Homo sapiens: one gene and its partners. The protein of the gene in region 1 interacts with the protein of each later gene in a biochemical or structural test. Each region holds a gene or a part of one and is shown in the gene's direction. Other genes may lie near its edges.

The links.
Region 2: the proteins of ITGB1 (region 1) and ANKS1B form a complex in vitro, tested with the Homo sapiens proteins (one study listed by IntAct).
Region 3: the proteins of ITGB1 (region 1) and FERMT3 form a complex in vitro, tested with the Homo sapiens proteins (one study listed by BioGRID).
Region 4: the proteins of ITGB1 (region 1) and ITGA3 form a complex in vitro, tested with the Homo sapiens proteins (one study listed by BioGRID).
Region 5: the proteins of ITGB1 (region 1) and FERMT1 form a complex in vitro, tested with the Homo sapiens proteins (one study listed by BioGRID).
Region 6: the proteins of ITGB1 (region 1) and ACAP1 form a complex in vitro, tested with the Homo sapiens proteins (one study listed by BioGRID).
Region 7: the proteins of ITGB1 (region 1) and FLNB form a complex in vitro, tested with the Homo sapiens proteins (one study listed by BioGRID).

Annotation. Positions count from the first base shown.
Region 1 is NC_000010.11:32,906,231-32,909,730, reverse strand, and holds part of ITGB1 (integrin beta-1 isoform 1A precursor), read left to right. Parts: intron 1-1,196; coding exon 1,197-1,363; intron 1,364-2,587; coding exon of another isoform or gene 2,588-2,662; exon of another isoform or gene 2,663-2,668; intron 2,669-3,500.
Region 2 is NC_000012.12:99,982,137-99,986,145, reverse strand, and holds the start of ANKS1B (ankyrin repeat and sterile alpha motif domain-containing protein 1B), read left to right. Parts: upstream 1-1,209; 5' UTR 1,210-1,908; coding exon 1,909-2,042; intron 2,043-4,009. UniProt on the Homo sapiens protein: Isoform 2 may participate in the regulation of nucleoplasmic coilin protein interactions in neuronal and transformed cells. Isoform 3 can regulate global protein synthesis by altering nucleolar numbers.
Region 3 is NC_000011.10:64,216,721-64,220,220, forward strand, and holds part of FERMT3 (fermitin family homolog 3 short isoform), read left to right. Parts: intron 1-2,530; coding exon 2,531-2,638; intron 2,639-2,803; coding exon 2,804-2,938; intron 2,939-3,019; coding exon 3,020-3,069; intron 3,070-3,158; coding exon of another isoform or gene 3,159-3,170; coding exon 3,171-3,295; intron 3,296-3,499; coding exon 3,500-3,500. UniProt on the Homo sapiens protein: Plays a central role in cell adhesion in hematopoietic cells. Acts by activating the integrin beta-1-3 (ITGB1, ITGB2 and ITGB3). Required for integrin-mediated platelet adhesion and leukocyte adhesion to endothelial cells.
Region 4 is NC_000017.11:50,066,110-50,069,609, forward strand, and holds part of ITGA3 (integrin alpha-3 preproprotein), read left to right. Parts: intron 1-1,946; coding exon 1,947-2,196; intron 2,197-3,500.
Region 5 is NC_000020.11:6,109,531-6,113,030, reverse strand, and holds part of FERMT1 (fermitin family homolog 1), read left to right. Parts: intron 1-407; coding exon 408-554; intron 555-2,519; coding exon 2,520-2,733; intron 2,734-3,500. UniProt on the Homo sapiens protein: Involved in cell adhesion. Contributes to integrin activation. When coexpressed with talin, potentiates activation of ITGA2B. Required for normal keratinocyte proliferation.
Region 6 is NC_000017.11:7,335,245-7,339,328, forward strand, and holds the start of ACAP1 (arf-GAP with coiled-coil, ANK repeat and PH domain-containing protein 1), read left to right. Parts: upstream 1-1,284; 5' UTR 1,285-1,490; coding exon 1,491-1,543; intron 1,544-2,018; exon of another isoform or gene 2,019-2,067; coding exon 2,068-2,125; intron 2,126-4,084. UniProt on the Homo sapiens protein: GTPase-activating protein (GAP) for ADP ribosylation factor 6 (ARF6) required for clathrin-dependent export of proteins from recycling endosomes to trans-Golgi network and cell surface.
Region 7 is NC_000003.12:58,168,922-58,172,421, forward strand, and holds the end of FLNB (filamin-B), read left to right. Parts: intron 1-668; coding exon 669-872; intron 873-1,575; exon of another isoform or gene 1,576-1,653; coding exon 1,654-1,841; 3' UTR 1,842-2,855; coding exon of another isoform or gene 2,856-2,952; 3' UTR 2,953-3,149; coding exon of another isoform or gene 3,150-3,240; 3' UTR 3,241-3,330; downstream 3,331-3,500. Other genes in the region: uncharacterized protein LOC124909485, read left to right, coding at 2,856-2,952, 3,150-3,240. UniProt on the Homo sapiens protein: Connects cell membrane constituents to the actin cytoskeleton. May promote orthogonal branching of actin filaments and links actin filaments to membrane glycoproteins. Anchors various transmembrane proteins to the actin cytoskeleton.

The DNA of each region.
Region 1 (3,500 bases):
TGTACATGTTTTTGTGTGAACATAAGCTTTCATTTCTCTTGGGTAAATACTAAAAATGGCATTTTGGAGCATATGGTAAGCATATGTTTAACTTTGTTAAGAAGCTGCCAGACTCTTAGACTCCCATACTGTTTTGAATTATCAGCTAGGTGTTTTGCAAATATTGTCTCCCAGCCTGTGTCTCCTTATCATTTCATTTTTTTAAGTGTCTTCTGAACACCACAGGTTTTAATTTTGATTAAGTACAGTTTACCAAGTTTTTCTTCTGTGGCTCTTGCTTTTACATTGTCTTTAAGAACTCTGCCTAACCCAAGATTATAAGGATTTTTCTCCTCTGTTTTTTGGTAGAAGTTTTATAGTTTCTGGGGTTTCACATTTAGATCTGTAACTCATTTTGAGTTAGTGTGTGACAAAAGGCTCAGTTTTTTTCATGTCAGTGTCCACTTGTTCTAGGGGCATTTGTTGAAAAAAGACTGTCTTTTCTCCACCTTTGTTGAACATCAGGTGACCTTACATGTGTAGGCCTGTTTCTGACTCTGTATTCTGTTCCATGTATCTGAGTGTTAGCTATACCACATGGTCTTGTAGCTTTCTTTATAGCTAGGCCTGAAAGCAGGGTCTTCCAACTTTATTCTTTTACAAAAGTGTTTTTGAGACACTTCCTTAGTTCCCTGCCTTCCATGTAAATTTTAGAAGTGGCTTACTGATTGCTACAGAAGTTCTGCCAGGAGTTTGAGTGGGATACCATTGAGTTTATAGATCAAATTGGGAAGAATTGACGTCTTAACGGTATTAGGTTTTGTAACTCCTGCACATGGAATATCTCTCCATTTATTCAGTCTGAAAGATTTCTTTTTATCAGTATTTAGTAATTCTTAACATGCAAATCTTGCATATATTTTGTTAGACTTATATGTAAGTTTTTCATGCTTTTTCATTCTGTAGTAAATATTACTGTTTAAAAACTTATATTTTCAATATGTAGAAATAAATTATATATATAGAAAAATACATGATTTTTGTTCATTGATCATGTATCCTGCAACCTTGTAAACTCACTTGTTAGTTCTAAGAGCTATTTTATAGATTCTTTGGGATAGTGTGCGTTCACTCTCTTGGGTGTTTATTCCTGTATGTTTTTTATAAGACACTGCACAGCTCTTTGTGGTGCTCATTATTACCTTCTTATTTTCCAGAGTGTCCCACTGGTCCAGACATCATTCCAATTGTAGCTGGTGTGGTTGCTGGAATTGTTCTTATTGGCCTTGCATTACTGCTGATATGGAAGCTTTTAATGATAATTCATGACAGAAGGGAGTTTGCTAAATTTGAAAAGGAGAAAATGAATGCCAAATGGGACACGGTAAGTTACAAAACATCCAAAAAGCAAAGTGGCTTATAAAGTAAATGTAATACTCCTAAGACTTATGTATTAGCTGTCAGGCTGATTATTAAAGTCCTTTCTAAGTATTTTATTCCCCCAAAAGTTTCTTACTCAAGGAATTTGCATTTAGTGAAAAACAGAAAGCATCCTAAATATATCCCATTGAAACAAAACATTGATTATAAGCATGTATATTCTGGTTACTGTGGCCAGTATTTTTATTTCTTTAATAGTTTTGATCCTAAATCTGCCTTTTCATCTAATGTGAAGTAGAATCCTAAATAATGTTATCTGTGTAGCAAGCTATTCAATGGAAAGCTGCTTCTTTCTTTAAAACAAACAAACAAAAAAAACCTTCAGTGAAAGCCAGATTCAAAAGGTTATATACCAAGCTTGTCCAACTCGCAGCTCGTCGGCCAGGACATGCAGCCCAGAATAGCTTTGAATGTGGCCCCAACACAAATTTGTAAACTTTCTTAGAAATTGTAATTATTATTATTATTTTTTTTTGGTAACTTTTTTTTAAAGCTCATCAGCTATCGTTAGTGTATTTTATGTGTGGCCCAAGACAATTCTTCTTCTTCCAGTGTGGCCCAGGGAAGCCAAAAGATTGGACACCCCTGCTATATACTATATGATTCCATTTAGAGGACATTCTGGAAAAGCAAAACTGTAGGGGCAAAAATCAGTGGTTGCTAGGGGCTGGAATGGGGGAAAGTGTTGACCACAGAGGGGCGTAAGGGATCTTCCTTGGGATGATCTTGATTGTGGGTGGATTTATGTATTTGAAAACTCACAGAACTATGTACTTTAAAAAGATGTATGTTCCTCTATGAAAATTATATCTCAGTAAACTTTGGCTTATAAAAATCTTAAAAGCCCTAAGTGACCGAAAGGTTATGTTAGCATTGAGTGCTTTGAAATATGGAGTCAGAGGGTGGGGTAACCAAATGTTGGCCTTTGTGTATTCATCTTTTGATACAAGAAAGCAATGCCAATCTTCAGTATTTTTAAATTGTAAATGAATTTTGTAGTTAGTTGCACTTTACTACAATTTGCTTGGGTTTTTAAAAATTATCAATTTTTTAAATTACAAATTTCAGAAGGGTAGAAATAAAAAAAAAGACATTTATAGTGTTCAAACACTATAAAGGGATTTTTTTTTTCTGATGAAATCATTAGAAACTATTTCTTTTACTTTAGCAAGAAAATCCGATTTACAAGAGTCCTATTAATAATTTCAAGAATCCAAACTACGGACGTAAAGCTGGTCTCTAAATTGCCGTTCGTATTTTGTTTCACTTTCTGCCTTTGCATGTGAACTTCTATCTTTTTTACTGCACTGTGTGTCCTTTATCACTATTGCTGTTCTTTTTTTAAGTCTGGCTTTAAATATCGCTATTGTGGCTTTTCTTTTTGTATGTTAACTTCGCGTTTAGAAAGACCGTAAAATAAGTAATGTGATATAGAAACAGCAGCCATGTTGTAGTGAAAAGAGAATGTGCTTTGCAATCAGTTAGACCTCAGGTCAAATCCCACCTCTTCCACTTAGTAAGTAGAACAGCATTGAGTCACTTCACTTCTCTCAACTGTCACAGGGAGTCAGTACTCTGTTTTGTATGGGGTGGTTGTATTTGGCAAATGCACTCCAGTATATGAAATCAGCCTGTCAGCTCTAATCCTCATAACAGTCCTGTGCCTAGAATGATATTATCCTATTATCTTTTGTTCTTTTTCTGTTTATTTATTTATTTATTTTGAGACAGTCTCTCTCTGTCGCCCAGCCTGGAGTGCAGTGGTGTGATATCAGCTCACTGCAACCTCTGACTTCCAGATTCCAGCAATTCTCCTGCCTCAGCCTCCCGAGTACCTGGGATTACAGGTGCCTGCCACCATGCTAGGCTAATTTTTTTGTTTTTAGTAGAGATGGGGTTTCACCACATTGGCTGGGCTGGCCTTGAACTCCTGACCTCCAGTGCTCTGCCCACCTCGGTCTCCCAAAGTGCTGGGATTACAGGCGTGAGCCACTGTGCCCCACCAGTATTATCCTTAAATAACAAATTTGTTATGAGTAAATTTTAGGGTTGGATAGTGAAAATTGATCACGAAATCCAAA
Region 2 (4,009 bases), on another chromosome or scaffold:
CCCCCAGTTATTTATTGAAAATCTTTGCCTACAGCAGACAGTGCCGGATTTGAGCCTTGGCTCAGTTACTTTCTATCCCTATTATCTTGCGGGTAATCAGTTTCTTCATCTCCAAAATAGAGATGAAAATGGTCCTATCTCATGCGATTGTTGCAAGGCTTAATGAGAACATGGAAAGCACTTAGCATAGTGTCTGGTATGTAGCAACTACTCATCAAATGCATGCAATAATTATTGTCTGTCCATTTCGCTTTTCCATGGGGGGCAGGAACGTATATTGGGAAGCACATGGTGTCTGGAGTGAGTCTGTTCTGGGGTCTAGTTCTGAGTCAGCCACTTACTCCATGTGGCATCTTGAGAAATTTAATTAACCATTTGAGCCCTATTTCCTCATTTCTAAAATGGATATAATAATATCCAGTTCACTGGGTTGTTGTAAGCACAGTGCCTATTAAGTCCTCTTCTTACCAATCAATTATCAACAAGTGAACATTTATGAAGTCTATTCCAAGGACAATGCAAAGCACAAGGTGTAACAGGAAGTTTTAATAGAAAATAAACGCGCGTTCTCCACCACGGCCAAGGAGAGCATCTAACAAGTCATGCCAACCATGCACAATGAATTGCTGATGATATATGCAAATTAAAGTGGATCTCTAATCCATGCCCATTTATATTTTTCGAGTGTAGATGTGGATAAATTTTCAATGAGAGCCTTTTTCCTGGTATTCTTACAAGTCAGCAGATCTCCAAAGCCCAACTAAAATATGGGCTGATTAAAGACTCCAGAAAAACTGAAACAGTCGCAAACTGCTCGGTGGCCAGTGCCACAGAAACTAGGACGAAACGAGCCTCTTCTTTCTAACCAAGGGCAGATCTCAGGCTCTCTTGGGGAGGTAAAGCGGAAGGGTGAAATGCCGGTCAAGTTGCCTAGACTCTGATGGAAGCGGTGGCCAAAGGGCCCCTCCCCAGTGTCACCAGCCTCCCCATTCCTGTCACGGAGGATTTTCCTCAGGCGTCGTGACAGACCCGAGGCGTGTTGCCGGGGCCCGCCGGGCCGAGGAGGAGCCGACGCGGCCCGGGGAACTCCAGTCCTCACACGGTTAACGCTCTTCCAAGGAGAGTGGAGGAGGGAGGGTCCCCGCCCACGAGAACGAAGAGAATCTCAGGGCCGAAGCCCCGCCTCAGCCGGCCCGGCCCCTCCCCGCCAGCCCGCCACCCAACTCGGGCCGCACCAGGGGCCGCACCTGCCCGCGCGCACACGCCCCCCGCGCGCCAGGCCTCGCCGCCGCCGCCGCCCTCGGCACGCGCCCGCTGCGGCTGCCCCCCACCGCCCTGCCTCGGCGCGGGCCACAGCGCACGAGCCGCCGCCGCCGCCGCCGCGCTCCTCCCCGCCGCGGACGCCGCCCCCGCGTAACCGCCGAGGAAGCCGAGGCGAGCCCGGGTCGGGCGCGAGGGCGCGCGGGCCGCTGCTGCCACCGCGGGTGTTCCCTGCGCTCCCGCTCCAGCTAGGACTCTCTCTGCCGCCTCCTCCTCCTCCTCCGACCTCAGTCCTCACCACCCTCCTCCCGCTCCTCAAAAGCACCCCCGAGTCCCCACCCCCTCACGCCGCACCCGCGGGAACGAGGCCTTGGGAATTCAGGGGAGTGGCTGTGGGGGCGCGTCGCGGCTCCCAGCTCGGCCAGCCCCTCTTTCAAGACATGGTCTGATCCCCATTGTAAAAGCTGCGCCCCGAAGAGGAGGAGAGAGTCGTGCTCCCTGCCTGGGGCTGCAGGGAGCTCTCCGTGCTGAAGCTCTTGCATTATTTTAGGGTGGGGCGAAGAGGGCCCTGGATTTTGGGGAGTGGGGGTGGGTGGGGAGGAGGACCCGAGGGGGGCAAGGACTCTGTGGGGGAGTCGGTGAGAGACTATGGGGAAGGACCAGGAGCTGCTGGAAGCTGCTCGCACTGGAAATGTGGCTCTGGTGGAGAAACTCCTGTCTGGCAGGAAAGGAGGGATCCTGGGCGGTGGATCCGGACCCCTGCCCCTGTCTAATCTGCTAAGGTAAGGACGGGCACCAGCTCCGGGGTTGGCACACCTCATTATGCATTGTGATGGATATACGTCCTCCTCCTCACGGTTATTGCACCTGGTGGCTGCCAGCGATTCATTCTTAAATTAGGTAGGAAAACAGACTGCGTGTATGGAGAGGAGGTATGAGCCTCCCAGTCAGATTGATGCCTTAGATTCTTTGAGTAATTTTAAAATAGCCTTCCATCAATGCGTCAGTAAGCTACTTTTCCTCTGAGCCCTGGTGCAGAACTTGTACATGTACTAGTGTTGCTTGAAGAAAATCGACGTTCCGCCCGCTTTCCATCAACATTTATTACATATTTGCAGCTTTGAACGCAGCCTTTTTTGTCTAGTTAAATGAAATTGGCAGAGAATCTCTTGCGTGCATGCAATTACCCTGCAAAAGCCACAGCCTTCGGTGGCTCCTACCTTCTCTTGCAGAAGGCGTTTGCTGTGCCGTGGGTTATGATCCCACAAAATGAAGTGAGTGAACCTTCTTTCTGGTGAGATGTCTTCAGCACAGGGTGTGTATAAAACTTGATGGGGCAGGTTAGGCAGCCCCAGCAATACTTTCAGTTACCTGGACATAGCTGAGTGAAACTTGGTTGTTATAGCTCAGGATGAAGGATGCCAGGTTGGTATTGGGATACTGTATATGGAGTACGGTAGAGGCCTTTTAACGTGAAGATGTCGTAGGTGAGACTGGTATTGCTTGGAGAATCTTTCTAAGATGACATTTAAAAAAAATGTCAAGGTCTTCATTCAGCAGTACCTTGGAAATAGCGGGGTTGATTTCCATACTTGAGAAACTATTAAAAGTTGTATTGATGGACAAATGAAATCAACTGGGAGGGAGGAAGCCTGGAGAGTATTCACTAGATACAATTCAAGGGAAGCTCTTTAGTTTCTAAAATCGTGGCTATCCAATTTATCCTGGGTATTTTTGGAGTCATCAATTGTCATTCATATCTTCGCCTTAAAACATCTCTTGGATAACCCAACTATAGTTGTAAAAATTTTAGAAAGCCCAAGTGATTTCCCTGGTTTTTTAAAAACTGTTCCATGCTACCCTTGACAAGTGCTTAATAGAAACTTTTGGGTGATGACATTGCGTTCTTTACACAAGTTCTCATAGGTTGTGGTGGTCAGACAGTGCAATTAATTATAGGGCTAGCTAAAAGGGAAAATGGAAAGTTTCTATTACAGTGAAATAAATTGAGTTGAAAAATAGTCGATGGGATTTTAAAAAGCCCCATATGTTATTCTATATACTCGTTGACAGTGACATTTTATTGGAATGATAGTTCATGTCAGAAGAATGAATATTTATGGGACATTTTTTCAATAGGTCATAGAGATGACTTGTGTGTACTCCCTTGTTAAATAATCTTCTCTTTCAAACACAGGTAGACAATGTGTGCATATTTCAGATTGCAGCTCTAATAATTGCCTGTAGTCACATGTAGTTTATGTGAAAGCAATTTATCTCTTTACAGTTTTAAGTTACACGTAAAATAACAACGTTTGCTGTGGATCCATCAGTTATAAAAATGATTATGTCTAAAAACTGGTATGCTGAAAGAATTTTCTCAAAATAAACAATTTCTTCGGGAAAACATGAGGAATTATTTGAGAACAGTGAGAATTTCACTTAATTTTATTGTGATAAATCGTATTTTAAAAACACTCCTTGTGACAAAACTCAAAAGCAAACATCCTTTAAATACTCCTTTCCCAGCTGTGATTTTTTTTTTTTTTTTTAAAGAATAGATGTCAAGTTTTAGGGATAAAACACCAAGTATTTAATGTTAGTGGACACTAAAGTATCAAAATAGTGACCCACAGTGTATATCTTGAGTGAGAGGTTTTCTCTTTTGCTGGTGTAGTAGTAGTAGTAGTAGCTCTACAACAAAGATTGCACATAGAAAACAAAAGTAAACAACATGTGTTTATTAGAG
Region 3 (3,500 bases), on another chromosome or scaffold:
GGGAGGCGGAGCTTGCAGTGAGCCGAGATCACGCCACTGCACTCCAGCCTGGGTGACAGAGCGAGACTCCATCTCAAAAAAAAAAAAAAAAAAAAAAGGCGGGTGCCACCATGCCCAGCTAATTTTTGTACTCTACAAGGATTTTGATTCACGTTTGAAGTTCTCTTCTGCGCCCTACCTGGCCTTTATTTCCTCCAAGCTGTTTTATTCTTGTTGTCTTGGTCTCTATGGTTCACTCTTGAAGCTTTCCTTAAATGTGGGTAGTCCATGCCTGTCCATTCATATTTAAAAGTGAAGCTCTAAGAAACCAATTGGAGACCCTGAGTGTGTGAGTAGGGCTTGGCATCTTGGTGGCCCCCTGGAGGCGATGGGGCCGGGCTGCCACTCTTTGTCGGGCATTTCTCTGGTGGCTCAGCCTCTCAGTGGCAACCCCACTGATCTTTCAACTGGAGATAGAAGGCTTCCTGCCAATGTCTTGGGTGACAAGTGGGAAAGGGTGTGGGTGTGTCACTCATCTGAATGCCAGCTTTCTTTAAATTTGTGTTTTTGCCGGGCACGGTGGCTCACGCCTGTAATCCCAGCACTTTGGGAGGCCAAGGCAGGTGGATCACCTGAGGTCAGGAATTTGAGACCAGCCTGATCAACATGGAGAAAGCCTGTATCTACTAAAAATACAAAAGTAGCTGGGCGTGGTGGTGCATGCCTGTAATCCCAGCTACTCAGGAGGCTGAGGCAGGAGAATCGCTTGAACCCGGGAGGCGGAGGTTGCGGTGAGCCAAGATCGTGCCATTGTACTCCAGCCTGGGCAACAAGAGCAAAACTCCATCTTAAAAAAAAAAAATTGTCTGTTTTCACCCTAGTGCAACCCCCACCCCGTCCAGCTGTGTCTGGGGTACCAAATGCAGGGGTGCATCTGGCTCAGCATCTCCAGAGAGTGAGTCCCAGCTTCTGCCAGGTGTCTCCTTGCCATCACTTGGCTGCATGGAGCTGGGGAGGGACCTGCTTTTTTTCTTGGACTTTATCCAGAGTCCTCTCTTCAGCTCACCCTCGCATCTCATCCAGAGGATCCCCATCAGAGCCTGCCAGGGGTCCGCCATGCAAACTGGATGCCTCTGTTGAGATCTCTGTTCTTTTTGCTGATTGCTTTCCGCCTATTTTCAAGTCTCATTGGTGGATTTACCAGACAGGAGAGGGACAAGGCGTGAGGCCCTAGCGCTCTCTGCATAACCCAGTTCCCATCTACAGTTTGCTCTCCATCTTCCAAATTATTTCCTTTTTCCTTTTTTTTTTTTTTTTTTTTTGTGACGGAGTCTCGCTCTGTCGCCCAGGCTGGAGTGCAGTGGCACGATCTCGGCTCACTGCAAGCTCCGCCTCCCGGGTTCACGCCGTTCTCCTGCCTCAGCGTCCTGAGTAGCTGGGATTACAGGCGCCCGCCACCACGCCTGGCTAATTTTTTTGTATTATTAGTAGAGACAGGGTTTCACTGTGTTAGCCAGGATGGTCTTGATCTCCTGACCTCGTGATCCACCGACCTCGGCCTCCCAAAGTGCTGGGATTACAGGCGTGAGCCACTGCGCCTGGCCTTCTTTTTCTTTCTTTTGGAGACAAGGTCTCACTCTATCCCCCAAGCTGGAGTGCAATGGTGCAATTACAGCTCACTGCACCCTCAACCTCATGGGTTCAGGTGATTCTCCCACCTCAGCATCCTGAGTACCTGGGACTACAGGCACGCACCACCTCATGTGGCTAATTTTTTGTATTTTTAGTAGAGATAGGGTTTCACCATGTTGCCCAAGCTGGTCTGAAACTCCTGGGCTCAAGCTATCTGCCTGCCTTGGCCTCCCAAAGTGCTGGGATTACAGGCGCAAGCCACCGCCCCGGCCTGTCCTTTGTCCTTTTGGGTTTATCTTCCTAAACCTTTGCTATCAATTTTGGGTGAGTTTCAGCGGGATTGTTGGTCTTCTGTGGGTAACTGGGATCCCCTCTTGGAGTCTCTGCCTTCCCAGTTCCTTTTCTCTGGAATCCTCTTCCTTCACGCTTCCCTTGAGTGGCCCACTGTCATCCTTCCTATCTCTACTCAGCTTGTCACCTCCTCAGGGAAGCCTTCCCTGACTGCTTCCCCATGTTCCATTCTGTCATCTCCATTGAACTTGGGGGGGCCTTAGACTGAGGGCTCATGTGAGCTTCCCTGTGGAAACTGTTTCCTTGATAGTGTTTATTGCAGCCTTGGATTATTTGACTTATTGATTGGTTTACTCGGTCTCTCCTGCACCCAGGGCAGCATGCCAGCACACAGTAAACATCAGCACAACCAAGCCAAGGTTTAGACGTGCAGGCCTGGGCAGCAGGGGGCTAGCAGGCTATTAAGGATGGGGTTGAGGTCTGTGGCCCATGTCTGGCCACTGAATGAATCTGCCTCAGCAAGGAGGGCAGGGCAGAGGGCCAAGGCTGGCAGGGGCTCAGTGCAGGGCGTCCAGGGCAGCTGGCATCTGACCAGCCCAGCCTCCAGCCTCCTCTCCCCCCGCTCCAGACAGACCCCGTGCGGCTGACACAGCTGTATGAGCAGGCCCGGTGGGACCTGCTGCTGGAGGAGATTGACTGCACCGAGGAGGAGATGATGGTGTTTGCCGCCCTGCAGGTACCAGGCGGGCCTGGGGGCACCAGGGCAGGTGGGAGGTGAGCCAGTCCCAGGGCAGGAAGGGCCTTCCTGAGTGGGGGCTACCTCCAGGGAAGCCCGGCCTGGGGGTACTGCTAGGGGACCAGGCTGCTGGACTCAGCCCTCCCTGGCTTCATGACCACCTAGTACCACATCAACAAGCTGTCCCAGAGCGGGGAGGTGGGGGAGCCGGCTGGCACAGACCCAGGGCTGGACGACCTGGATGTGGCCCTGAGCAACCTGGAGGTGAAGCTGGAGGGGTCGGCGCCCACAGATGTGCTGGTGAGGAGGGGCTCAGGGCAGGGGCTGGGCAGGGAGAACTGTGAGGTACCGGGTGCCCCTCTGACTCTGGTCCTCCCATAGGACAGCCTCACCACCATCCCAGAGCTCAAGGACCATCTCCGAATCTTTCGGTGAGTTGGGGGCCAGAGTAGGCAGCCCTGCTGGAGGGGTTGGTCTGCATATGGAGGGAGGGGGTGAGGCGGCCTTTCACAAACCCCAGCATCCCACGAAGGCCCCGGAAGCTGACCCTGAAGGGCTACCGCCAACACTGGGTGGTGTTCAAGGAGACCACACTGTCCTACTACAAGAGCCAGGACGAGGCCCCTGGGGACCCCATTCAGCAGCTCAACCTCAAGGGTAAGTGCACAGGGCCAGGGGCTGGGTGGGGGGATCCCCACTTGTGGGCTAGGCAGGTGAATGCTCTCACCGGCCCTGTTTCCTCCTGGAGACCGGGGAAGATGCCCTCTGTCCTGAGGTGACGGTGTGGGCTAGGATGCACTCCAGGACCTCAGGCGGCTCTTCCCCTCCCGACCTCCTAGACCACCCCTTCTCTCCCTCCAGG
Region 4 (3,500 bases), on another chromosome or scaffold:
CCTTGACTTCCCAGACTCAAGCGACCCTCCAGCCTTAGCCTCCCAAGCTAATTTTTAAAGTTTTTATAGAGACAGGGTCTGACTGTGTTGCCCAGGCTGGTCTCAAACTCCTGGGCTCAAGTGATCCTCCTGCCTTGGCCTCCCAAACTGCTAGTGCTAGGATTTCAGGCGTGAGCCACCGTATGTGGCCCCATTTTTCTTTTTCTTTCTTTTTTTTTTTTTTCTCTTAGAGATGAGGTCTGGCTCTGTCACCCAGGCTGGAGTGGGTGACATGATCATAGCTCACTGTAGCCTTGAACTCCTGGGCTCAAGTGATCCTCCTGCCTCGGCCTCCCAAGTAGTTGGGATTATAGGCAAGAGCAACAATGCCTGGCTTTTTTCTCATTTTAAAATTTGATGTGGCCAGGCTCGGTGGCTCATTCCTTTGGGATGAGGCAGGAGGATCGTTTGAGCCTAGGAGTTTGTGATCAACCTGGGCAACACGGCAAAATTCCATCTCTACCAAAAATATATAAATTAGCCCGGCATGGTGGTATGCGCCTGTAATCCCAGCTGCCTGGGAGGCTGAGGTGGGAGGATCACTTGAACCCCGGAGAGAAAGGTTGGAGTGAGCTGAGATCATGCCACTGCACTCCAGCCTGGGTGACAGAGTCAGATCCTGTCTCAAAAAGGAAAAAATTGATGTAATGTTTACATACAGTGAAATGTACAGATTTCAAACTTCAATGAATTTTTACAAATGTATGTACCTGTATAACCAAAGATATATCTTAAAATCACTCCAGAAGGTGCCCTTGTAACCCCTTCTAATCATTTGCCACCCCATAAGCCACCACTGCTGGGATTTCTGTCACCTTTGAACACTGTTTTAAGCTCCAGGTTGGCATCAGTTCACTGAAATGCCTTTTTGATAACCCTGTTATGGATGGCTGTGGTCTAGGAGCCCATTTAAAGTGATTCTGCACCCTGGATCCTTTAGCAGTTATTTACTCACTGTTCATTCAACAGATATTTGGTGAGCCCCTACTGTGTACCAAACACTGTGCTATTCCTAGAAGCTTAGCAGTGACTAAGACAGGCTCAGGTAACATGCTGGTGGAGCTCACAGCTAGAAGGGACCACAGAAAGCAAGTAAACAAGAACCAGGGCCTACTTCTGGACTTTGCCTGTCTCCAGGCTGTTTTAAGTCACCCTATTCTGGCCCATCAGTTTGCCCAATAAATATATACTGAGCAGCTAAAGTGCACCCAGAGAGGCTGCGCATAGATTCTCCCCTCCGTGAAGCAGCACAGCATGTGCTTAAGAGCTCAGATTTTGGAAGGAGACAGCCTTGGTTTGAATATTCTCTGCCTCTCTCTAGATATGAGATCTTATGCAGGTTACTGAGCTCTCCATGCCTCAGTTTATCTAAAATGGGGGAAATAATCATTCCTACACCATAGGGTCACTAGCAGGCTTAACACTTAATATGTGAGGAGTTCAGAATTGTGCCTGGCATATAGGAAGCACTCATGAAGTGTTAGCTGCTGCTATTATTATTACCGTCATTGTAATTATTATTTTAATAATGGTCCTTTCATTAAGAGGACAGGGTCATCTGGAGATGGCAGAGCAGCAAGTCCCTTAATCTCTCTGTTACTAACCCCTTCTAGACCAAGAGCCTGAACCCCACAGTCTCTCATCCTTCCCTGCTTTCCCTTTGCTGAGATCTCTAAGCCACTCTCAGATCCACACTTTACAGCTTTCCAAAAAGTGTTCCTGACCCTCAGAGCAGATTTCTGAATTCTGGAAAGGAGATGCAGGTTTAAGTATCACTGGGAGAAGGAGAAGCCAGGAGATCTCCTTTGACTCCTGTTTGGCAAAGCCAGAGGCTTACAGGGTAAAAGAGACAGCTGACCCGGGTCCCTGTGCCTGACTAAGGCTGCCTGTGTTTGGGGGGTCCCCAGGTCTGTGCCCACCGCTACACCCAGGTGCTGTGGTCAGGGTCAGAAGACCAGCGGCGCATGGTGGGCAAGTGCTACGTGCGAGGCAATGACCTAGAGCTGGACTCCAGTGATGACTGGCAGACCTACCACAACGAGATGTGCAATAGCAACACAGACTACCTGGAGACGGGCATGTGCCAGCTGGGCACCAGCGGTGGCTTCACCCAGAACACTGTGTACTTCGGCGCCCCCGGTGCCTACAACTGGAAAGGTGGGGACCATGGGGCCATGGGGGAAGAAAGGAAGAGCAGAGACCACCCACCCCTAGTTAGCCACGGGGACAGCTGGCCTAGACCATCCACACTAGAAACAGGACCTCATGCCAGTATCAGCAACCACCATGACTTCTACTGTTTTAAAGCACTTACTATGTGCCAGGGGCCTTACGCATATTATGTCAATCAATCTTTTTTGTTGTTTTTTTGACATAGGGTCTCACTATGTCACCCAGGCTGGAGTGCAGTGGCACATTCATGGCTCACTGCAGCCTCGACCTCCCCAGGCTCAGGTGATCCTCCAACCTCAGCTTCTTGAGTAGCTATGACCGCAGGCATGTGCCACTACACCTGGCTAATTTCTGTATTTTTTGTAGAGATGGAGTTTCACCATGTTGCTCAGGCTAGTCTTGAACTCCTGGGCTTAAGCAATCCACCCTCCTCGGCCTCCCAAAGTGCTGGGATTATGGGCATGAGCCACCATGCCCAGCCTCAATCAGTCTTTTTTATTTATTTATTTATTTATTTATTTATTTATTTATTTATTTATTTTTTTGAGACAGAGTCTCACTCTGTCACCCAGGCTGGAGTGCAGTGGTGCAATCTCGGCTCACTGCAAGCTCCACCTCCAGGGTTCACGCCATTCTCCTGCCTCAGCCTCTTGAGTAGCTGGGACTACAGGTGCCCGCCACCATGCCCGGCTAATTTTTTTGTATTTTTAGTAGAGACGGGCTTTCACCGTGTTAGCCAGGATGGTCTCAATCTCCTGACCTCGTGATCCGCTCACCTCGGTCTCCCAAAGTACTGGGATTACAGGCGTGAGCCACCGCGCCCAGCCTAATCATTCTTAAAATACTCTTATGAGGCAAGTATTATTATATCCATTTTACAAAAACAAAAACTAAGACTTAGAGAAGTAAATTGCCCAAGGCCAACAAAGTTATGAAACCTGGATTGGAATACAGGTCCATCTGACTTCAGTTTAACCATTTACAAACTAATTCTAAAAATAAAACATGCTCCTGGTACAACCACTACATAGTACAGTAGGCAATGTCCTATAATAATAGTTATCGCCAGGTGCAGTGGCTCATGCCTGTAATCCCAACACTTTGGAAAACTGAGGTGGGAGGATCACTTGAGCCCAGGAGTTCAAGACTAACGTGGGCAACGTAGGGAGACCTTGTCTCTACAAAAAATTTAAAAATTAGCCAGGTGTGGTGGCACACACCTATGGTCCCAGCTACTCAGGAGGCTGAGGTGGGAGGATCGCTTGGGCCCAGGAGGTTGAGGCTGCAGT
Region 5 (3,500 bases), on another chromosome or scaffold:
AGACACATCCAAACCATATCAGGAAGAAAGGGGAGAGGGAGGTAAAGTTGGTGGTAAATAGGTAACAAGAATAGCATAATGCTAGTAATGACTGAAGCTGGGGAGCCCATGAAGGGGACATTATACCATTCCCTTTGCTTTAGATACATTTGAAATATTTTTATAATAATTTTTCTAACCAGAAATTTCACTAGACTGAATCTCCCTCCACCGTTTTCTCCCCCCACCTACTTTGGAGGTCTCTGTTCCCCTTTCCCCTTCTGTTTCTTCAAAAGGGATGCAGTTTAGTCCCATTTACTTTTCAGAAATTTCCTGAGAAATGATTTTAAATGCACAAAATGACCCTGAGTCTTAGAAGGAGTTTTCTTTTTACTTTTTCTTCATTTTTAAAAAATATTTATTTCTAGATATTAGAAGATCAGAAGAGCTTTCCTTGTTAAAGCCGTCTGGTGACTATTTTAAGAAGAAGAAGAAAAAAGACAAAAATAATAAGGAACCCATAATTGAAGATATTCTAAACCTGGAGAGTTCTCCAACAGCTTCAGGTTCATCAGGTAAGACTTGTTACAGGTGTTTTGTTGTTTGAACGTACAGTAAAACTCAAGAGAGAAATATATCTCTCCTCCCACCCCCACCAAACAAAGGAGAAATAAAATTGCAGAACTGATGTGATGAGGAAAGGCTATCTAGTCAAGTTTAGAATTAACAGAAATGTGTTTCAGACTTTTTTTCATCAAGCATGTTTAATAACTCATTACTTGAATTGTATATCTGATGTTGCCAATGAATGCAAAATTTTAGTACCACTGACCACAAATTTGGGATAAAAGAGTGATATTTAGAAAACAGGTAACTGGCTGGTCACGGTGCCTCATGCTTGTAATCCCAGCACTTTGGGAGGCTGAGGTGGGTGGATCACTTGAGCTCAGAAGTTTGAGACCAGCCTGGGCAATATGGTGAGACTCCATCTCCATTAAAAATACAAAAAATAAATAAATAAATAACCTGGGCATGCTGCTGCATGCTTGTGGTCCCAGCTACTCAGAAGGCTGAGATGGGAGGATTGCTTGAGCCCTGAGGGTGGAAGTTGCGGTGTGCCAAGATTGTGCCACTGCACTCAGGCTGGGTGACAGAGCAAGACCCTGTCTCAAAAAAAAAAAAAGAAAAGAAAAAAGATAAGTTAAATCACTCAAATACACTTCTCTCTTCATGATTCTATCATTGTGTGATTCTTTCCTGAATTCAGTTTTTTATGGGGCATGCAAGAGGAGGGCAGGTGAAAATTCTGGAGGAGAAGCATCCTTTTCTTTTTATATCAAAACAATCAAATCTCTAGCTTGCTTGCAAGATTGAGGCTTTCTTTCTTCATTTTTTGTTTGTTTGTTTTGTTTTGTTTTTTTAGACAGAGTCTTGCTCTGTCACCCAAGCTGGAGTGCAGTGGCACAATCTCGGCTCATTGCAGCCTCTGCCTCCCGGGCTCAAGTGATTCTCATGCCTCAGCCTCCTGAGTAGCTGGAATTACAGGTGTGCACCATCACACTTGGCTAATTTTTGTATTTTTAGTAGAGACAGGGTTTTGCCATGTTGGCCAGGCTGGTCTCAAACTCCTGGCCTCAAGTGATCCGCCTGCCTCAGCCACCCAAAATGCTGGGATTACAGGAATGAGCCACCACACCCGGCCAAGATTGAGGGCTTTCTTGCATAGTGTATTCCAATGAAAAGAACAAATTGTACAAATTAGAGCCAGCTGATTTATAAATCATCAGCCTACTGAATTCTTAAAATTGGCAAGTCCTGCTATTTGTTTAAGGGGCTACCTGAAACATATTGGGTACATGCATTCTATGAGGTCTCCAGTTCTCTAATAGTGCCAAGACTCCTACTGAAATAGGAAAACTGTGAATTATTAGAAAAGAGGTGGTCTCCATTAGCCGGGTGTGGTGGCTCATGCCTGTAATTCCAGCTATTCAGGAGGCTCAGACAGGAGAGTCACTTGAACCTGGGAGGTTGAGGTTGCAGTGAGCCAGGATCACACCACAGCACTCCAGCCTGGGCGACAGAGTGAGACTCCGTCTAAAAAACAAAAGAAAGAAAAGAGGTGGTCCCCAATGTTTGTCCCTGTTGATTTTTGAAGGCTTTTACATATTTGAGTTCCAAGGCTTTTGAGGAGCTGAATTTACAGATAAGACCATTACCTGTGTATTACTAATCTCTGTACCATCATGATCCATATTATTTTTTGGGTTTTGTTTGTTTGTTTGTTTGTTTTTTGAGATGAAGTCTTGCTATGTTGCCCTGGCTGGTCTCAAACTCCTAGGCTCAAACAATTCTCCAACCTCAGCCTCCCAAGTAGCTAGGATTATAGACGCGGGCCACAGTGCCCAGCTTGACTTATATTATTTTAAATGGTGCCAAATTTAAAGTCAAAACTCATTTTAGTGTAAGTAATGTTAATATTTTCTTGAAGATTTATATCCCTGGATTCTCATATCATAGTTCTTGATCCCCCTGCCTTGCAGTAAGTCCTGGTTTATACAGTAAAACCATGACCCCTATATATGACCCCATCAATGGAACACCAGCATCATCCACCATGACTTGGTTCAGTGACAGCCCTTTGACGGAACAAAACTGCAGCATCCTCGCATTCAGCCAACCCCCCCAGTCCCCAGAAGCACTTGCGGATATGTACCAGCCTCGGTCTCTGGTTGATAAAGCCAAGCTCAATGCAGGGTAAGGACACGGCTCCTTTTACTTCTCTCTGAGCTAGTGCCGACACAGTAAGAGATGGGATGTCACGTTTCATTTTCAAGTTGGTAGGCCTAGGGATTGTGCTTTATTTGCAAAAGTTAGTGCTGATTTTAGCAACAAAGGGGAAAAATTCAGCCTTTGGTCATTTCAGTATATTTAAAGTGTGCCTAAATTTACATGTTTGGGTAACTCAGTAGATTTACTATCTGTGAATACTAATTCTTTACCACTACAGATATGCAAAGTATATTTTGTGGGATGTAGGGTAGTTAATAAGTGTGTTGGTCCCCATGGGCCAGTGGGATAAATCCAAGGTGACCCACCAGGCTTACATTGTCTTTTGTAGAATGTCACTCTTCTCTTTTTTTTTTTTTTTTGAGATGGAGTTTTGCTCTTGTTGCCCAGGCTGGAGTGCAATGGCGCAATCTCAGCTCACCACAATCTCTGCCCCCCTGGGTTCAAGCAATTCTCCTGCCTCAGCTTTCTGAGTAGCTGGGATTACAGGCATGCGCCACCATGCCCAGCTAAATTTGTATTTTTTTAGTAGAGATTGGGTTTCTCCATGTTGGTCAGGCTGGTCTCGAACTCCTGACCTCAGGTAATCTGCCCACCTTGGCCTCCCAAAGTGCTGGGATTACAGGCATGAGCCACCGCGCCCAGCTGTCGCTCTTCTCTTTAGGCATTCTAATGAGCAACTTCCTTGAGCTCTGTTTGAAATGGTCTCAGAAAATACACCCAAACTATTTCTG
Region 6 (4,084 bases), on another chromosome or scaffold:
CCTCCTCCTTCACTCCTCTGCCACACCACCCCACTCCAGGTATTTCTCTGTCCTCCAAAGACAGTGAGTCTCAAGTGGTGTCCAGCTGGTGGCTGGGGGGCTGAGCTGGCAAAGCCCAAGGAGTTCAGAGAGGGAGAGTGGAAGCAACCCCAACTCCTCAAGCCAGAACAAGCACAGCCTGGCACACTGAGCCTGGGCAGAGGCAAGGGGATGCATACACTGGCCAGGGAGGTAGAGGAGCTGAGTGGGGAGGTTCTAGGGGATCCAGAGTCACATGGACAAGATCTCATGCCTGCTACGAGAAAGCCATGAACTCAAACTCTTCTCTCCAGATGAAACCCTGGGACTTCAATGGACTCAAGAAAAGGAAAGCAAACAATGGAAAATGGGGCTGGTTGGGGGCGGAGTGGGGGCAACCTTCCCTTCATGACCACCCTATGAATAGAAATAAAGAGCAGAAGAGCAAGAGTCTGGGAGCTGTGAATCGGGTGCTCAGGCTGGGCCTGCTCAGTCGTTGAGGAGAGGGGAGGAGGAAGGGGAGTTCACACACAGGAACCATGAATATGACGGCAAAACGAAGAAAGCTGGGAGCAGTCCGGGGTACTGGACTCCACAGGAGCAGGCCCAAGCTGTAGCAGGATGACAATGACTGATGCAATTAATATAGTGAACCAGCTGGGCACAGTGGCTCACGCCTGTAATCCTAGCACTTTGGGAGGCCGAGGTGGGTGGATCACCTGAGGTCAGGAGGTCGAGACAAGTCTGACCAACAAGGTGAAACCCCGTCCCTACTGAAAATACAAAAAGTTAGCCGGGCATGATGGCAGGAGCCTGTAGTCCCAGCTACTCGGGAGGCTGAGACAGGAGAATTGCTTGAACCCAGGAGGCGGAGGTTGTAGTGAGCCGACATCGCGCCACTGCACTGCAGCCTGGGCGATGGAGGGAGACTCCGTCTCATAAATAAATAAATTTAGTGAACCATGAATTTACTGCTATCACCTTCTTCACTTCGTACAGCCCTGGAGGAAGGGGTTATCATTCCCATCTTCCAGATGAGAAAACTGAGGAATCAGAGAGCTCGTCCAGGGGCACATAACCTCTAAGTGACAGAGCCAGGATTTGAACCTAGATCTGCCAGGCCCCCAAGATAACCACGAAGAGAGAAAGAAACAGAGGCTAGAGCCCCAGGAGGAAGGAGCTGGCAGATCGTCTCTGAGGGTGGGGCTGTGGCTTCTCTGATCTCAGGCCCCCATCCTCCGCCCAGGCCCCGCCCCTGCCCCTCCCAGCACTGCCTGGAAGTGTGGGGTGAGAGCTCCTCCTAGGACACCCCTTTCCCCTTGGGGAAAGAATTGTGCCCCCAGGCCCTTCCCCGCGGAGGTCCCTCTCCTCCTTCCCCCTCATCTCCCCTTCCTGGGACAGAAAGTGCCTCCACCTGCATCCCCAGGGGCCCGGCCTCCAGGGCCCGCTGGCCCCACAGCAGGCAAGCTGAGATGACGGTCAAGCTGGATTTCGAGGAGTGTCTCAAGGACTCACCCCGTTTCCGGTAAGTGTGAACTGGTCTGGGGGGCTAAGGAGGGGAAAGTCTAACACCCCCAGCACACACACACCTTTCCCCAGGCCAGGTCTCCTTCCAGGGAGCAGGCCTCTAAGAGGCAGGAGCGAGCCTGTGGGCCAAAGTGGTACCCCAGCTGTGAAAGCAGGGTACTCCAATGCTCTCTGCCCCTGCATGCTCCTCCTGGCCTCTGCAGTTTCCCTCACCCCTAGAGCTGGCATTCCCTCTGGCCTCTCAGTGGGACCCCTGCCCCTCCCCCAGCACCTGCTCTGGGGCGGTTAGCAACTTCCTGCCCTGGCCACATCCACCCTCCTTCTACCCTTCCTGCTCTGGCCTGGGCTGTGGTAGCTCCCAGACTGCAGAGCGGGCAGAGCACAAGTAGGTGGGTGGGGGGCGAGCCTCTCAACTCTGCAGCTTTCTCCTCCGTACCCACCGCCCTGCGACTCCATCCCGCCTGATGAGGCAGACAGACCAGATGGACCCAAGCTCTCTTCCCATGACCCCCTCTTTCCCAGAGCCTCTATTGAGCTGGTGGAAGCCGAAGTGTCAGAATTGGAGACCCGTCTGGAAAAGGTGACCCTGACATGGAGAGGTGACCCAGGAGTGGATTAGGTTGAGAGGGGTAGGGCCAGGGAGAAAGCTGGAGACACAGAATGCATCCCAGGGATTATTGAATACTGTGTAGGGGAGATATTTTGGAGACTGCAGAGAAGCAAAAAAGGTGGTTCTGTACCGACAAGAAGCTCAGGATCTTGGAAAACAAGACTTACTTTTGGGCCAGGCATGGTAGCTCATGCCTGTAATCCCAGCACTTTGGGAGGCCAAGGTGAATGGATCACCTGAGGTCAGGAGTTCTAGACCAGCCTGGCTAACATGGCGAAACCCCATCTCTACTAAAAATGCAAAAATCATCCAGGCTTAGTGGCACCCATCTGTAGCTCCAGCTACTCAAGAGGCTGAGGCAGAGGAATCACTTGAACCTGGGAGGCGGAGGTTGCAGTGAGCCAAGATCGCACCACTGCACTCCAGGCTAGGCGACAGAGCGAGACTCTGTGTCAAAAAAAAAAAGACTTAATTTTGGACTTCCTTGTTCTGCTCTTGAGCTCCTGCATTGTGCCAGGCCCTGGGCATTCAGGGAGGACAAGATCATTTCTGCTCCCACGGAGCCCAAAGGCTGACTAGAAGACAAACCAGTGAAACGTTTCAATTCAAGACAGTAAGGTGTCCCCTGAGCACTCTATCAAACAGCATGTTCACACAAATACACACTCAAATGCTCTCTCATTCCCCTTACTTCGCTTTACTTTTCTCTGCAACATTTACCTCTGACACATTATGTATTTGCTTGCTATATATTAGTTCTCTATTGCTGTGTAACAAATTGTCACAAATTTAGTGGGCAACATTGTTTTATGGGCAACATGGTGAGACCTCATCTCTACAAATAATAATTTTATTTTTATTTTTATTTATTTGAGATGGAGTCTCGCTCTGTCACCCAGGCTGGAGTGCAGTGGTGCGATCTCGGCTTACTGGAACCTCCACCTCCCAGGTTCAAGTGATTCTCCTACCTCAGCCTCCCAAGTAGCTGGGATTACAGGTGTGCACCACCACACCTGGATAATTTTTTTTCTTTTTGTATTTTTAGTAAAGACAGGGTCTCACCATGTTGGCTAAGCTGGTCTTGAACTCCTGACCTCAAATGATCTACCTGCCGCAGCCTCCCAAAGTGCTGGCATTACAGGCTTAAGCCACCGCACCCGGCCTACAAATAATAATTTTAAACAATGGACTGGATGGAGTGGCCACAGCTGTGATCCCAGATGCTTCAATACTGGGCTCAAGTGATCCTCCCTCCTCAACCTCCCCAGTAGCTGTGCTACAGGCACATGCCACCACGCCTGGCTTTTTTAAATTTAAATTTATTTTTTGTAGAGATGGGGTCTCCCTATGTTACCTAGGCTGGTCTGGAACTCCTGGCCTCAAGTAATCCTCCCACCTCAGCCTCCCAAAGTGCTGGAATTACAGGTGTGAGCCACCACACCTGGCCTGAATTTTTTATTTTGAGTAAATTATTGACTCAGGAGACTAGTGAGGAGAGGTCTCATGTACCCATCACCCAGCTTCCCCCAGTGGTGACATCTTATACAATACTAGTACATTATTAAAACCAGGACATTAATAGTGTCACATTACAATTAACAATAAACTCGGCCAGGTGTGGTGGCTCACGCCTGTAATCCCAGCACTTTGGGAGGCCAAGGTGGGCGGATCACGAGGTCAGGAGATCGAAACCATCCTGGCTAACACTGTGAAACCCCGTCTCTACTAAAAATACAAAAAATTATTCGGGTGTGGCGGCAGGCGCCTGTAGTCCCAGCTACTCAGGAGGCTGAGGCAGGAGAATGGCGCGAACCCGGGAGGTGGAGCTTGCAGTGAGTGGAGGTCGTGCCACTGCACTCCAGCCTGGGCGACAGAGTGAGACTGTCTCAATAAACAAAAACAAACAAACAAAAAACCCCAATAAACTCT
Region 7 (3,500 bases), on another chromosome or scaffold:
TACGTATTTGTTTAGATCAGGGTCTGAAAAATCCCCTGATTTCTAATTTTCACTTGAAAAATAATCAAAAAGTTTTCCTATACTTATAAAAATGTGTCTCCTCCAAAACACTGGAAAAAATACCAAACTATGAAAACCACTTCACAGCCACCACCCAAGGTAACCACCATAAACACTGTAGTAAATCCCTTCCACACGTCATGATTCACTGTTACATAAAGAATGTAGGTTCATCGCAGGAAAATTAGAAAATTCAGATAGAAAAATCATCCTTTCTCATCCACAGAATCATTTTTTGATATTTCATTATATGTCATCCCAAACTTTTACACTGCTTATACATAGACTATTTTATGTCAATAGAAAGATGTGAATTCCACAGGCACATCTTTGGTGGGTAGGGGGTGGGGGGATTGGGAGGGTCCTTGGCCTTGTCAGCCAAGGCCAGACTCATCCATTTGCCCAGAAAGCCAGATCCTAGTTGTATGGGGGTGGGATCCTAGGGGTTTAGAAGACATTATGGGTGTGAGATACAGGTGTGGTGGCTTTTGTGTTGGGGTGCGCGGGCTCTCCTGGGGTTACTGTGTAGGGTACTCGCCTGTCCTCTGGCTGAGAGACCCCTCTTGATCTGGCCATTCATGCCTGTCCCCCTCCCTCCTGTATCTTAGGCCAGCGTCTAGTTAGCCCTGGCTCAGCCAACGAGACCTCATCCATCCTGGTGGAGTCAGTGACCAGGTCGTCTACAGAGACCTGCTATAGCGCCATTCCCAAGGCATCCTCGGACGCCAGCAAGGTGACCTCTAAGGGGGCAGGGCTCTCAAAGGCCTTTGTGGGCCAGAAGAGTTCCTTCCTGGTGGACTGCAGCAAAGCTGGTAGGTGTCTGGGCCTTTTCAAGGGTGGGGTGGGGCAGGGGCAGGCTGGGCACCCTGGGTACACTGGCCTTCCCTGCTGAGGTCTCCTGCAGTGCCCACCCCCATGTAGGCCAGCCGTTTGCAAGTAACCATCGTCATGACCCTGTTCTCCTGCACTTAATATTTTTAAATGATTTCCTTCTCTTTTGCCTTTTGAACTTGGGTATTTATTTGGGTTTCAAGGGTCGGTTGCCTGGGTTCTGGCATCCAGTACACCTGGGCTGGAAACCTAGTACCGCCACTTCATTCATTCATTCGTTTGTTCTAAAACTTATTTAGCCATGTGACCTTGGAAAGTTATTAAATCTCTTTCCAAAAGTCAGTTTCCTCTTCTCGGAAGTACCTTCCTTAAGGTGCTTGTGAGAGTAAACAAGAAGATTCTCATAGCCAACACTTAGAATAGCCCTTACTGTGTGCTAGGTTTTGACACCCATAACTCTTAAACCTCACAACTAGTTCGTGAGGTATGTGCTGTTCTCATTCCCTGTTTACAGATGGGGAAGCTGAGCTAGGGAGAGGTGAGATTCCAGTCCAAGGTCACCCAGGTAGCAAGTGGCAGGGCAGGGATTCGAACCCACACCGTCAGGCTCTATGAGCCTCTGCTTGTAATTGCCACGCTCTCCCACCTCTTAGGGGCCCCAGCATTATCGTGGAAGCACCTTACCTTTGGCTCTCATATTTCCTCTTCTTCCTGTGCCTGTCCTGATGCATCCGGGTGGAGTAACCACCTTTTGCCTCCTAGGCTCCAACATGCTGCTGATCGGGGTCCATGGGCCCACCACCCCCTGCGAGGAGGTCTCCATGAAGCATGTAGGCAACCAGCAATACAACGTCACATACGTCGTCAAGGAGAGGGGCGATTATGTGCTGGCTGTGAAGTGGGGGGAGGAACACATCCCTGGCAGCCCTTTTCATGTCACAGTGCCTTAAAACAGTTTTCTCAAATCCTGGAGAGAGTTCTTGTGGTTGCTTTTGTTGCTTGTTTGTAATTCATTTTATACAAAGCCCTCCAGCCTGTTTGTGGGGCTGAAACCCCATCCCTAAAATATTGCTGTTGTAAAATGCCTTCAGAAATAAGTCCTAGACTGGACTCTTGAGGGACATATTGGAGAATCTTAAGAAATGCAAGCTTGTTCAGGGGGCTGAGAAGATCCTGAGTACACTAGGTGCAAACCAGAACTCTTGGTGGAACAGACCAGCCACTGCAGCAGACAGACCAGGAACACAATGAGACTGACATTTCAAAAAAACAAAACTGGCTAGCCTGAGCTGCTGGTTCACTCTTCAGCATTTATGAAACAAGGCTAGGGGAAGATGGGCAGAGAAAAAGGGGACACCTAGTTTGGTTGTCATTTGGCAAAGGAGATGACTTAAAATCCGCTTAATCTCTTCCAGTGTCCGTGTTAATGTATTTGGCTATTAGATCACTAGCACTGCTTTACCGCTCCTCATCGCCAACACCCCCATGCTCTGTGGCCTTCTTACACTTCTCAGAGGGCAGAGTGGCAGCCGGGCACCCTACAGAAACTCAGAGGGCAGAGTGGCAGCCAGGCCCACATGTCTCTCAAGTACCTGTCCCCTCGCTCTGGTGATTATTTCTTGCAGAATCACCACACGAGACCATCCCGGCAGTCATGGTTTTGCTTTAGTTTTCCAAGTCCGTTTCAGTCCCTTCCTTGGTCTGAAGAAATTCTGCAGTGGCGAGCAGTTTCCCACTTGCCAAAGATCCCTTTTAACCAACACTAGCCCTTGTTTTTAACACACGCTCCAGCCCTTCATCAGCCTGGGCAGTCTTACCAAAATGTTTAAAGTGATCTCAGAGGGGCCCATGGATTAACGCCCTCATCCCAAGGTCCGTCCCATGACATAACACTCCACACCCGCCCCAGCCAACTTCATGGGTCACTTTTTCTGGAAAATAATGATCTGTACAGACAGGACAGAATGAAACTCCTGCGGGTCTTTGGCCTGAAAGTTGGGAATGGTTGGGGGAGAGAAGGGCAGCAGCTTATTGGTGGTCTTTTCACCATTGGCAGAAACAGTGAGAGCTGTGTGGTGCAGAAATCCAGAAATGAGGTGTAGGGAATTTTGCCTGCCTTCCTGCAGACCTGAGCTGGCTTTGGAATGAGGTTAAAGTGTCAGGGACGTTGCCTGAGCCCAAATGTGTAGTGTGGTCTGGGCAGGCAGACCTTTAGGTTTTGCTGCTTAGTCCTGAGGAAGTGGCCACTCTTGTGGCAGGTGTAGTATCTGGGGCGAGTGTTGGGGGTAAAAGCCCACCCTACAGAAAGTGGAACAGCCCGGAGCCTGATGTGAAAGGACCACGGGTGTTGTAAGCTGGGACACGGAAGCCAAACTGGAATCAAACGCCGACTGTAAATTGTATCTTATAACTTATTAAATAAAACATTTGCTCCGTAAAGTTGCCTTGGTGTTCTTGGATGATGTCGCTTCTGAATAAATTGTTTAATCCTAGGAGTTCAACACCCTCAGCCTGGGTAACAGCAAGACCCAGCCTCTACAAAAAATTAAAAAATTAGCCAGCATGGTGATGCATGCCTGCAGTCCCAGCTACTCAGGAGGCGGAGGCAG